Linked DNA regions of Homo sapiens: region 1 is linked to region 2. The links come from fine-mapping of genetic effects on gene expression. A gene starts in region 2. The other region holds a variant in brackets. All regions are shown on one strand. Distances are between the middles of the regions.

The links. PIP is the estimated chance that this variant, and not a neighbour inherited with it, causes the effect.
Region 1: its variant is the best candidate, but not a certain one, in a credible set for the expression of GZMA in whole blood (INTERVAL, PIP 0.72).

Annotation. Positions count from the first base shown.
Region 1 is chr5:55,127,941-55,132,940 of GRCh38, forward strand. CDC20B (cell division cycle 20B) reads right to left here. Exons shown (of 12, transcript NM_001170402.1): 7 at 481-677. Among named protein-coding and RNA genes, the nearest start is that of GZMA, 28 kb to the left of the region's middle. The variant C/T (reference allele first, on the strand shown) is at 3,066.
Region 2 is chr5:55,100,293-55,105,831 of GRCh38, forward strand. GZMA (granzyme A) reads left to right here and starts at 2,354. Exons shown (of 5, transcript NM_006144.4): 1 at 2,354-2,460; 2 at 5,182-5,326. The coding sequence starts at 2,391.

The DNA of each region.
Region 1 (5,000 bases), 27 kb after region 2:
GTGATATTGTTTATTCTATTGGTAATAAACAATAATAATGATACATGAGAAATCAGATAGATTGATGGAAATTTGATAAATCCCCATCTCAAGGAGCCTATCAGAAAAAAAAATTCACTCATTTTCTATAACTGTACTCTTAATCACGGCTTCAGGTGAAAAGGAGAACTGAAAGTATCTTCCTCTCTCCAAAGCTCCAAAACTGGAGATTCTACAAGCCCAACTTTAGTTTCAGAGAAAATATATTTTTAAATATGACAGAAAGATTGTGGTGGAAACTAACCAGAGTATCCTTACGTTTTCATTAAAAACCATTCAGTAAAAAAAAAAAAAAAAAAGCGGAATGTCATCTCCTTTTATTCCCCATACTTCAAGAGCCACACCTAGTTTCTCTATTTTACATTAACTTGTTATTAAAAGTCAATTATAGTGTAATAATACACAGAGAACATGATGAGAAAAAAAAAAACTGGCCAGTACTTGCACTTCTCCCTCGCTGGTGCCAACTGCCAGGCAAGTTCCCTCTTTTATCCAGGACACAGAAGAGATATAGTTACAAGTGAGACTTAAGTCTATGTTTTCAATCCCATTGTGGTTCTCCCCATTCCAGATGTATACAGCAGAGCCCAGGGCTATGGCAACAAGATTCTGAAAACTCCAATCTAGGATATTCAGATCTATAAGAAAAGCACTTCAAATTAGTATAATTATACAGCCACATGAAAACATGTTCAAATAAACAACTTTATAGGTAGGGGGAAAAGAATAATACCATCCCCATGGTTAGCTGGAAAATGGAAACATGGAACCATGAAAATCCTTAAAAGTTCAAAAATGAAAAGTGGAATAGAATCTAGTGTCAACACTCACAGTCTAATAAGCAATAATGCTTATTATTTACACTGAAATATATTTATTTAGAGCCATTTAAAGAACTTGGCAGATTCATCTACCATTATTAGTACATGTAGACTTCGTTTAACGGATCAGTAAAAGTTAAAAGCATATAATTCTTATGGAGACACTCTTGGACCTAGGATATCTATATGGGAGATGCCACCATCATTTCTAACCAAAAACACCACCCAGCTAGAAGAGGTGGTGGTTCATGTATGATACCTACACGTTCTCAACAGTATTCTATAGCTTATACTAATAAGAAACCTTTGACTGCTAAGAGAAAACATATTTGTATGACCATTTATTAAAATATACCCTATCTTATTTCTTATCAGTCAGAAACTCCTGACTGACACGTATCAGTATAAAACTAAGTAGCACACCAGTTCCCCTACAGTAGTTTAAACCCCTACAATACATTCCGTCCCCATGATAAATATAAACTCTGAATGAAATATAAAAAACAAACACCTGGAGATCCTGTAAAGTAAGGAAAAGCAGTAAACTAAGTAAGGGAGTCAAAATTTGGAGAAGCAAACTGGCGGGGGGTAAGTTTCCCACTTTTCTTCTTTCACACCTTTGCCCTGAGGACAGGCCCCATTGATGGAGTGCCAGCGAAGACTCTGACAAAAAGGCCACCATATTTCTGGTCAGAGAAACCATGGAAAAGAGCCTGAGGCATAGAACTGATACCAGTATGAGGGAAAAGTCCTAGACATGGGAAAGCCAAAAGAAAGAGATCCTCTGAGTGTGAGTATATTAATTCACACACATCTCAGCCTTACCCCTAAATCACCTACATGCAGAAGAGACTCAAATCACCTTAGTAAAGGCTTTAAGAAACGAACTGAGATTTGAAACATCCATACAAGTCTCAGCCTAGGCTCTGATCCACATGTATGAGATACAGACCCAAACCAGCATGGTCAAAGTTTAAGAAACTGATCTAAGATTTGAAACACCACCCACAAATGGCAAGACAAAACTTAAAATGTGAACCTAACTAGAACAAAAACATCAACCAGAACAAAACATCAACATTCTCCACAGGACCCAGTGACTATAACATAACATCTACAATATCCAGACACAATTCAAAATTACTGGATAAATGTAAAGACAAAACATAACCAATAGATGAAAACTCCAAGGTGACCTAGGTATAGAAATTATCAAAGACTTTAAAGCAGCCATTATATTCTCCATGAAGTGAAGAAAAACACACATGAAATGAATGAAAATTTATATGAAACTTTATATGAAGCTTTAACAGATAAACAGAAAAATCAAAAGTATTTTCTAAGTAAAGAAAATAGAAACCATAAAACAAAGCTCTAAAATGGAAATCAAATATACAAAAACCACAAAATACAAACTTTAAAATGGAAAAATATAATATCTGAAAAATTCCTTGGATACACTGAATAGCAGGATAGAGGTGATAGAGGAAAGAGTAAACTTGAATATAGATAACAGAAATTATTCAATCTAAAGAATGTGGAGAAAAAATTTCTTAAAGAATGAAGCCTCAGCGAATTGTGGAATAATATCCAAAAATCTAACATATGTGTAAGTAGAGTCAGGTCTTAGAAGCAGGATAACAAGGTGACCATGGGGTTCTCACCAGATACCATGGAGGCCACAGTCAATGGAACAACATCTTTTAAATGCTGGGGGTAGGGGGCAGTGGTGGATCTTTCAACCCAGAATTCTATATCCAGCAAAAATCTCATCAACTGGAAGATGGAAAATCTAACAGAAGTCTGTGCCAACTGACCTGATCTGCAAGAACTGCTAAAGGAAGCTCTTCAGGCTAAAGGGACAATATATGAAAGAGAAACTTGGATCTTCAGAAATGAAGGAGAACACTGAAATTGGTAAATATTTGGGTGAACATAGGAGCCATTTTTTCCTCTTAAGCTATTTAAATACTTTTTAAATTTTAAAACGTTTACAATTGGATGGTTTTCAGTGTATGTAAATATAAAATGCATGACAGGCCAGACACAGTGTCTCACACCTGTAATCCCAGCACTTTGGGAGGCCAAGGTGGGAGGATCACTTGAGCCCAAAGAGTTCAAGACCAGCCTGAGGAGTAAAGTAAGACCCCATCTCTATAAAAAATCAAAAAATTACCTGGGCATGGTGATATGTGCCTGTGGGCC[C/T]AGCTACTTGGGAGGCTAAGGCAGGAGGATCACTTGAGCCCAGGAGGTAGAGGCCACAGTAAGCCTCTACAGCCTCCAGCCTGAACCACTGCACTCCAGCCTGGGTGACAGAGTGAAAACCTCCCTCAAAACCTCCCTCAAAAAACAATAACAAACAAACAAACACATGACAACTACAATAACCTAAAAAGTAGTGGGGACTTTGAGAGACCTATGTGATTGCAAGATGTTTATATATTGTGTGATGTGTACAATAGTAACTCTACGTAGACTAAGAAAGTTAAAATTACATTGTAATCCCTAGAAAAATGACGACAAAACACAATACAAAGAGATATAGCCAAAAAGCTAAGATCAATTAAAATAGAACAGAAGTAAAAAAAGAAAAGATGTCCAAGGAACAGGCCTTGGGTACTCCAACATTTAGAGGTCAGGGAAATGGAAGAGAAACACAAATCAGCAAAAAAGGATGAGAAAGAGTGAACAAAAGACACTCTTGGACAAAACCCAAAAGAGTGGGATATCAAGAAGGAGGGATTGATCAGCTGTCTCAAATATAGTTGTTAGGGTTCGGTATGAAGTCTAAGAAGTAACTGTTGGCTATAACAATGAGGAGTTCTTTGGTAATGTTTGGAAGAGTAGTTTCAATTGAATGATGAGACTTAAAACTTGACTAGAGTGGATTTGAGACAATATGGGGAGAGAAATAGAAAATTATAAGTATAAAGATCTTTTGAAAGTTGTACTGTCAAAGGGAGGAAAGAAAGAGGGCTGTGCGTCTGGGCATGGTGGCTTATGCCTGTAATCCCAGCACTTTGGGAGGCCAAGGCAGGCGGATCACTTGAGGTCAGGAGTTCGAGACTAGCCTGGCCAATATGGTGAAACTCCATCTCTACTAAAAATACAAAAATTAGCCAGGCATGGTGCACATGCCTGTAGCTACACGCCCAGCTACTCAAGAGGCTGAGGCACGAGAATTGCTTAAACCCAGGAGGCGGAGGCTGCAGTGAGCCACTGCACTCCAGCCTGGGTGACAAAGCAAGACTCTGTTTAAAAAAAAAGAAAGAAAGAAAAAGGGCTGTGGCTTAAAGGAAAAATGGGAACAAACATTGTTTCTTTTTAATATAACAGTTTTTTAACATTTTTTGAAAATCCATCCTTCTTAGTTGGTCATGACAATACATTCTCTTGGAGAAGGAGCTGAAGGAATAGGGAGATAGAGAACTGTTCCCTTCAGGGATTTTTCTTTTTCCAGCTCATGCCTCTTTTTAGATATTCCATGGAGCCCAGACCCCTTCCCTCTGCTCCTCTCTCCCTCATCTAGGGAGCTTACACTGGCTCCTGGATTCAATCATAATCATCTGACCTACGGGCTAGTCCATCCTCTTTCAACTACCAGCATTCGTTTCAAATAATCTGCCAAACTGCTTCTATGTCTGATTGTCTCCTTTAAAATAATATTCAAGCATAGTCTTTCCTCTCCAAATCACCTCCTCTGCCAATCTGTCTTCTCAGTGACACCACCCTTCTTTCTCCTGCTTCAAAAACTTGGAATAATCATGAATTCATTTCTCATCCCATTTCTTTTCTTCATGGAGGAAAAATAAGCCTTTACTCTTTGGCAGCTCTTTCCTACTAAGTGCATTCTGCATACTCTGCCATGAATTTTCCTTTGATGTTTCTCTTAGTCAACAACTCCCAAAACAAATCTAAATTTCTGAATTTGAATTTTTCTCCATAATCTGTACCCACCTATTCACCAGTCCCCAATGTATCTTCTTCATTGCCATTAAATATCTTAATTACCAACATCCTGCCTTCTTCATGCTGTTAACAATACCAAAAATGGTCCTTCTCCTCTATACCTTTCCAAGTTCTAATGATCTTCCAAGACCCAGCTTAAGTATAAATATCTCCACAACGTCTTTCTGGACA
Region 2 (5,539 bases):
AGTACATCAAAAAGCTTATTCGCCATGATCAAGTTGGCTTCATCCCTGGGATGCAAGGCTGGTTCAACATATGCAAATCAATAAACATAATCCATCACATAAACAGAACCAACAACAAAAACCACATGATTATCTCAATACATGCAGAAAGGGCCTTCAACAAAATTCAACAACCTTCATGCCAAAAACTCTCAATAAACTAGGTATTGATGGGACGTATCTCAAAATAATAAGAGCTATTTATGACAAACCCACAGCCAATATCATACTGAATGGACAGAAACTGGAAGCATTCCCTTTGAAAACTGGCACAAGACAAGGATGCCCTCTTTCACCACTCTTATTCAACATAGTGTTGGAAGTTCTGGCTACAGCAATCAGGCAAGAAACAGAAATAAAGTGTATTCAACTAGGAAAACAGGGAGTCAAATTGTCTCTGTTTGCAGATGACATGATTGTATATCTAGAAAACCCCATCATCTCAGCCCAAAATCTCCTTAAGCTGATGAGCAACTTCAGCAAAGTCTCAGGATACAAAATCAATGTGCAAAAATCACAAGCATTCCTATACACCAATAACAGACAAACAGAGAGCCAAATCATGAGTGAACTCCCATTCACAATTGCTTCAAAGAGAATAAAATACCTAGGAATCCAACTTACAAGGGATGTGAAGGACCTCTTCAATGAGAGCTACAAACCACTGCTCAACGAAATAAAAGAAGACACAAACAAATGGAAAAACATTCCATGCTCATGGATAGGAAGAATCAATATCATGACAATGGCCATACTGCCCAAAGTTATTTATGGATTCAATGCCATCCCCATCAAGCTTCCAATGACTTTCTTCACAGAATTGGAAAAAACTACTTTAAAGTTCATATGGAACCAAACAAGAGCCCACATTGCCAAGACAATCCTAAGCCAAAAGAACAAAGCTGGAAGCATCATGCTACCTGACTTCAAACTATACTACAAGGCTACAGTAACCAAAACAGCATGGTACTGGTAATGGCTGCACAACTATGCAAATATACTAAAATCCATTGACTCATACACTCTAAATGGGTGACCTTTATGGTGTGTGAATTATGTCTCATAAAGTTGTTAGAAGTCAACATAAATGGAAGAGCAACCATTCACATAAAAATAAACAAAATTGTCAATGTTTTAAGAATTTTTCAGTAGGTGTAGTTAATTACAATTTGACTTTTTTAAGTCTGCACTAAAATTACTCACCAAAACCAATAGCAGGGTCCTCACTGCTGTTACTGAAAATGATTAACCTTTGATACACTTGTAATATCTGAGAAAAAGAAATGCAGGGGTCTCAGCAGGGCTCCCTTCTAAGGTCACTTGATTTCTAAAGAAGTAACCACTAGGTTTGAAGTCATCAGGATGTTAACTATGGGGATGGTTGGTTCAGTACCCAACATCCTGACAGCACATCTGACCATGTATATTGTATCGGAGACCACATCCTCAGCTCAGAAAAAGAGCTGAACTCATTTCAAATAGAAAGCACACTGCATACTGTTCCTCCAGGGACTGAGGTTGACTCTTCTTAGAGTGAGACATTCCCCAACATTGGAACAAAAATGACTCCCACTTCTTTTCTCACCTAAACCTGTTCAGAAGAAAGTAAGGAAGAAAGGCAGGAAGCAGGGGTCGGGGGGGGGCGGGGAGGGAGGGAAACTCGGAGATACTTTCAGTATCTAAAGTTGTGAAACTAGACAATCAGGAACGCACAATCAGAGGGCTGAAAAGGGCCAAGAGCCCCTACCCTCCTCCAGCCCATGTTCCCACACCTGCCACAGACCAGGCAGGAGCACAATAAACACTCACCACAAAGTGGGGAAGGAAAATCCAGGCAGGAGCCTCTATGTAAATAAATCTCCCTCCTGTCCTCAGCTTGCACTTGGCCTGCTAATTCTTATATAACCCAAGGAGACAGCTAGAAAGAATTTTGATTGGTGACCAATTTTGAGGACTTTTATTAAAATTCTAATTTAAGTCTTCGAGAGTTTCCAGTCATGGATACTACAGATAATATTGCAGATGATGAAAGCGTCTTCAAAATCATAGCTGAGACACTTTACAGTCTTCCCTGGTGTACTCTGATGGCAACAAGGTCCCTTGCCCCTCTCCTACCCTGTAGAATTCCAGCGCCCCCCTCAGCAGTCCTAGCAAAGGAAAGCCTGCCTGCTGGCAGTGAGCCATCATCCACCATTCTCACTTATTTGGATTTGGTTTCCTAATGCTAAACTTTGAAACTTGAAAAAAAAAATGAAAGGAAACCACATCCTTTTTACTCTCAGTATATAGATAGAGGCAGTTAAGAACTGAAAACAGATTTTCAGGTTGATTGATGTGGGACAGCAGCCACAATGAGGAACTCCTATAGATTTCTGGCATCCTCTCTCTCAGTTGTCGTTTCTCTCCTGCTAATTCCTGAAGGTAAGACTGATTCTTCTCATTTCCATTATGACCATGAAGCAAAATGGAGCAGACTTTCAATGAACTTTTGGCAATATTACCTTCCTATACTGAAAGAAGATGTTTTCCCCCAAGCCTTATAATGTTTAGCCAGGCACAATGGCACATGCCTGTAGTCCCAGCTACTAGGAACGCTGAGGTGGAAGGATCACTTGAGCGCAGGAGTTTGAGTCCAGGCTGGGCGACATAGTGAGACCCTGTCTCTATTTTTTTTTTTTAAATAGCATTCTTTCTTGGATTTTAAATATGTCTGTATTTTAGAAAAAAAAATCTTTTCTTCTCATAATTATTTTGCAAAAGATAGCAGAACCACCAATGCTTATTGCTGCCAATTTGTAACTTGAAAATTGCCAAAAAGGACAATGTAAAAATGAGTTAACAAAACTCTCTTGTTCGTAAAACAAATAGTACCTTCCAGGAAAGGAATAGTGGCAACTTAGTCAGCTCAGCCTTTCCTGCTGCAGAAAATGCATAGATAAAGACAATTAAGACAAATCTGACCTAGACACCAAAAGTGAATCAGGAATTATTAGAATTTTTATACTTATTTCTCTGGTCTAGAGACTCTTTGGCAATAAATTAAGGCGTGAGGCCAGTTCCCTCATTAACCCTTTGGGTGTGCTATAGTATTTTTTATTAAGCTAATTTTTTGTCTACCAAATGGTAACCAATATTTCTGCTTTTGTGTGAGTTGAGCATGCATGGGTTAAAATGCTGTATAATTCATGGTATTACCACTGAAAGGGTGACAGCTCTTGGGGAGCTCTAGATTTCCCTTGAAGAACCTGCTAGGAAGTGAGGACTACTCTCAAGCTGTGGCAATATGGAGCCAGCCACGGTTTTTCCCAGGATTCATCAGCTTTTGGAGGCAGGGACTTATGTAATAACCTGCCTTGCCAGGAATTCCCAAAGAACTCTGGTTTATCATATTTAGGTGCATATCTGGTTTATGCACCTAAATATGAGAAGACTTTGGGAGGCTGAGGTGGGTGTTTCACAAGGTCAAGAGATGGAGACCATCTTGGCCAACATGGTGAAACCTTGTCTCCACTAAAAAAACAAAAATTAGCTGGGTATGGTGGCACGTGCCTGTAATCCCAGCTACGCAGGAGGCTGAGGCAGGAGAATCGCTTGAACCAGAGAGTTGGAGGCTGCAGTGAGCTAAGATCGTGCCACTGCACTCCAGCCTGGTGACAGAGCGAGACTCTGTCTCAAAAAAAAAACAAAAAAGAGAGAGAGAGAGAAGAAATATAAAAATAACAAGGCTGCAGGACATTTGGGACAAAGGTTGGCTATGTTATAAGCAGGGCATAGTATGACTATATTCAGGCATGTTAAATCCTCCATAACAGAAAAACACAGGGCAGATAAATCCAGCCATATCTTTTCTTCAAAGGAAAACAACAAAAGCAACCTGCTGTGCTCCTCTTTGTTTCCTGTGTTCAGAGAGGGCAGTGTGGGCCCATATAAGGAACAGACAGCAAAGCAAGGCACAGTTGAAATCTATCTGTACATGAATCACCCTAGGAAAATTGGGATTGGGTGAAGGTCTTTTGTTTCTATAAGCTCTTTACCCTTTTGTTTCTAGAGCCTAGAATTTCTTCCTCCCAGTTTCCTTTTTAAAAGCAGAGACCTCTGCTTTTTCAAATCACACTAGCCACATTTCATGTGGTCACTCTCCTCCTTGCTCTTACCCTCATCAAATCTTACGAAAGGCTTCTATAGCTGTCATTAATACTTGCCTGTGAATTTGGCAATGACTTAGTCCTAATTATGGAACAAGAGGCACTGTGCCCTATTCAAGAAACCATGAGTCTCAGCAAAACTATTTTGGGAGAATCCAAGAACATCTGGTGCAGGAGGTGGAGCACTCGGAGTGTATCACTAAGACATAAGGTTCTCTCTATCTGCATGTATGGTTTGCCTTGTGTTTAGTTCTCACTGTTCCTTAACAATGGGTCTCTACTTCAAGACTATCATCAAGGAAATGTCACTTAGGCAGAATTCTTGGCATATGGTATCTTCTCTCTTCTCTTCCCTATCTCATTGGAAAAGACCTTAGATTAAACCCCATGGTTTGGTCTAGAGATTGAAGGGGAGGTGCAATCGATGTTATTTTCTTAACTTATGAGTGAGAACAGTGCAGTTTAATAACCAAAAGTCTCATAATGACCAAAGGACTGAGGGGTAGGGTCACAGCTAAACGATGCTAATATCGGTTCATAAGCTATATTTTTGCAATGGCTTGGGGTTAAAAGGGAAGTTATGAGGCTTCTAAAAGTCTTATCTATTTCCCCCAAATTAATAGTTAGCCAAAAAGGGTGGGAGCACTTGAGGTTGTCACTACCACTGGCATTTCCTGCAGCAACTGTTGATGGTAAAGACCAAGGCAGAGCTTTCTGCCCTGGGGCCTGAGGTTGCTGGTTTGTGACATCCAGCCTAATGATCCTGGAACAGTCAATGGCCTCGCTTCTGTGGGTGGAAAAACAGGACCCTAGAGTCCAACAGGAATAGGATTTGCATCAGATGTCTGCGGGTCTACATAGAGTAAAAGCAGGGGAAATGCTCTCATCCAGACTTCCTCTCTGAGTGCAAAAAGCATGGCTGGTCTTAGAAACATGACTTTGTGTAGAGCTCTTTGGGGGTGAGCACCAATCTGATTTGTCTTTTTCCATTGAACAGATGTCTGTGAAAAAATTATTGGAGGAAATGAAGTAACTCCTCATTCAAGACCCTACATGGTCCTACTTAGTCTTGACAGAAAAACCATCTGTGCTGGGGCTTTGATTGCAAAAGACTGGGTGTTGACTGCAGCTCACTGTAACTTGTAAGTGCCTGGGTTTTTAAAAAAAAGTTTGTAAAGATACTCTAATTTGGGGAAACATTAATAAAAAGAGTAGGCCGGGCACAGTGGCTTACACCTGTAATCCCAGCACTTTGGGAGGCCAAGGCAGGTGGATCACATGAGGTCAGGAGTTTGAGACTAGCCTGGCCAACATGGTGAAACCCCATCTCTATTAAAAATACAAAATTAGCCAGG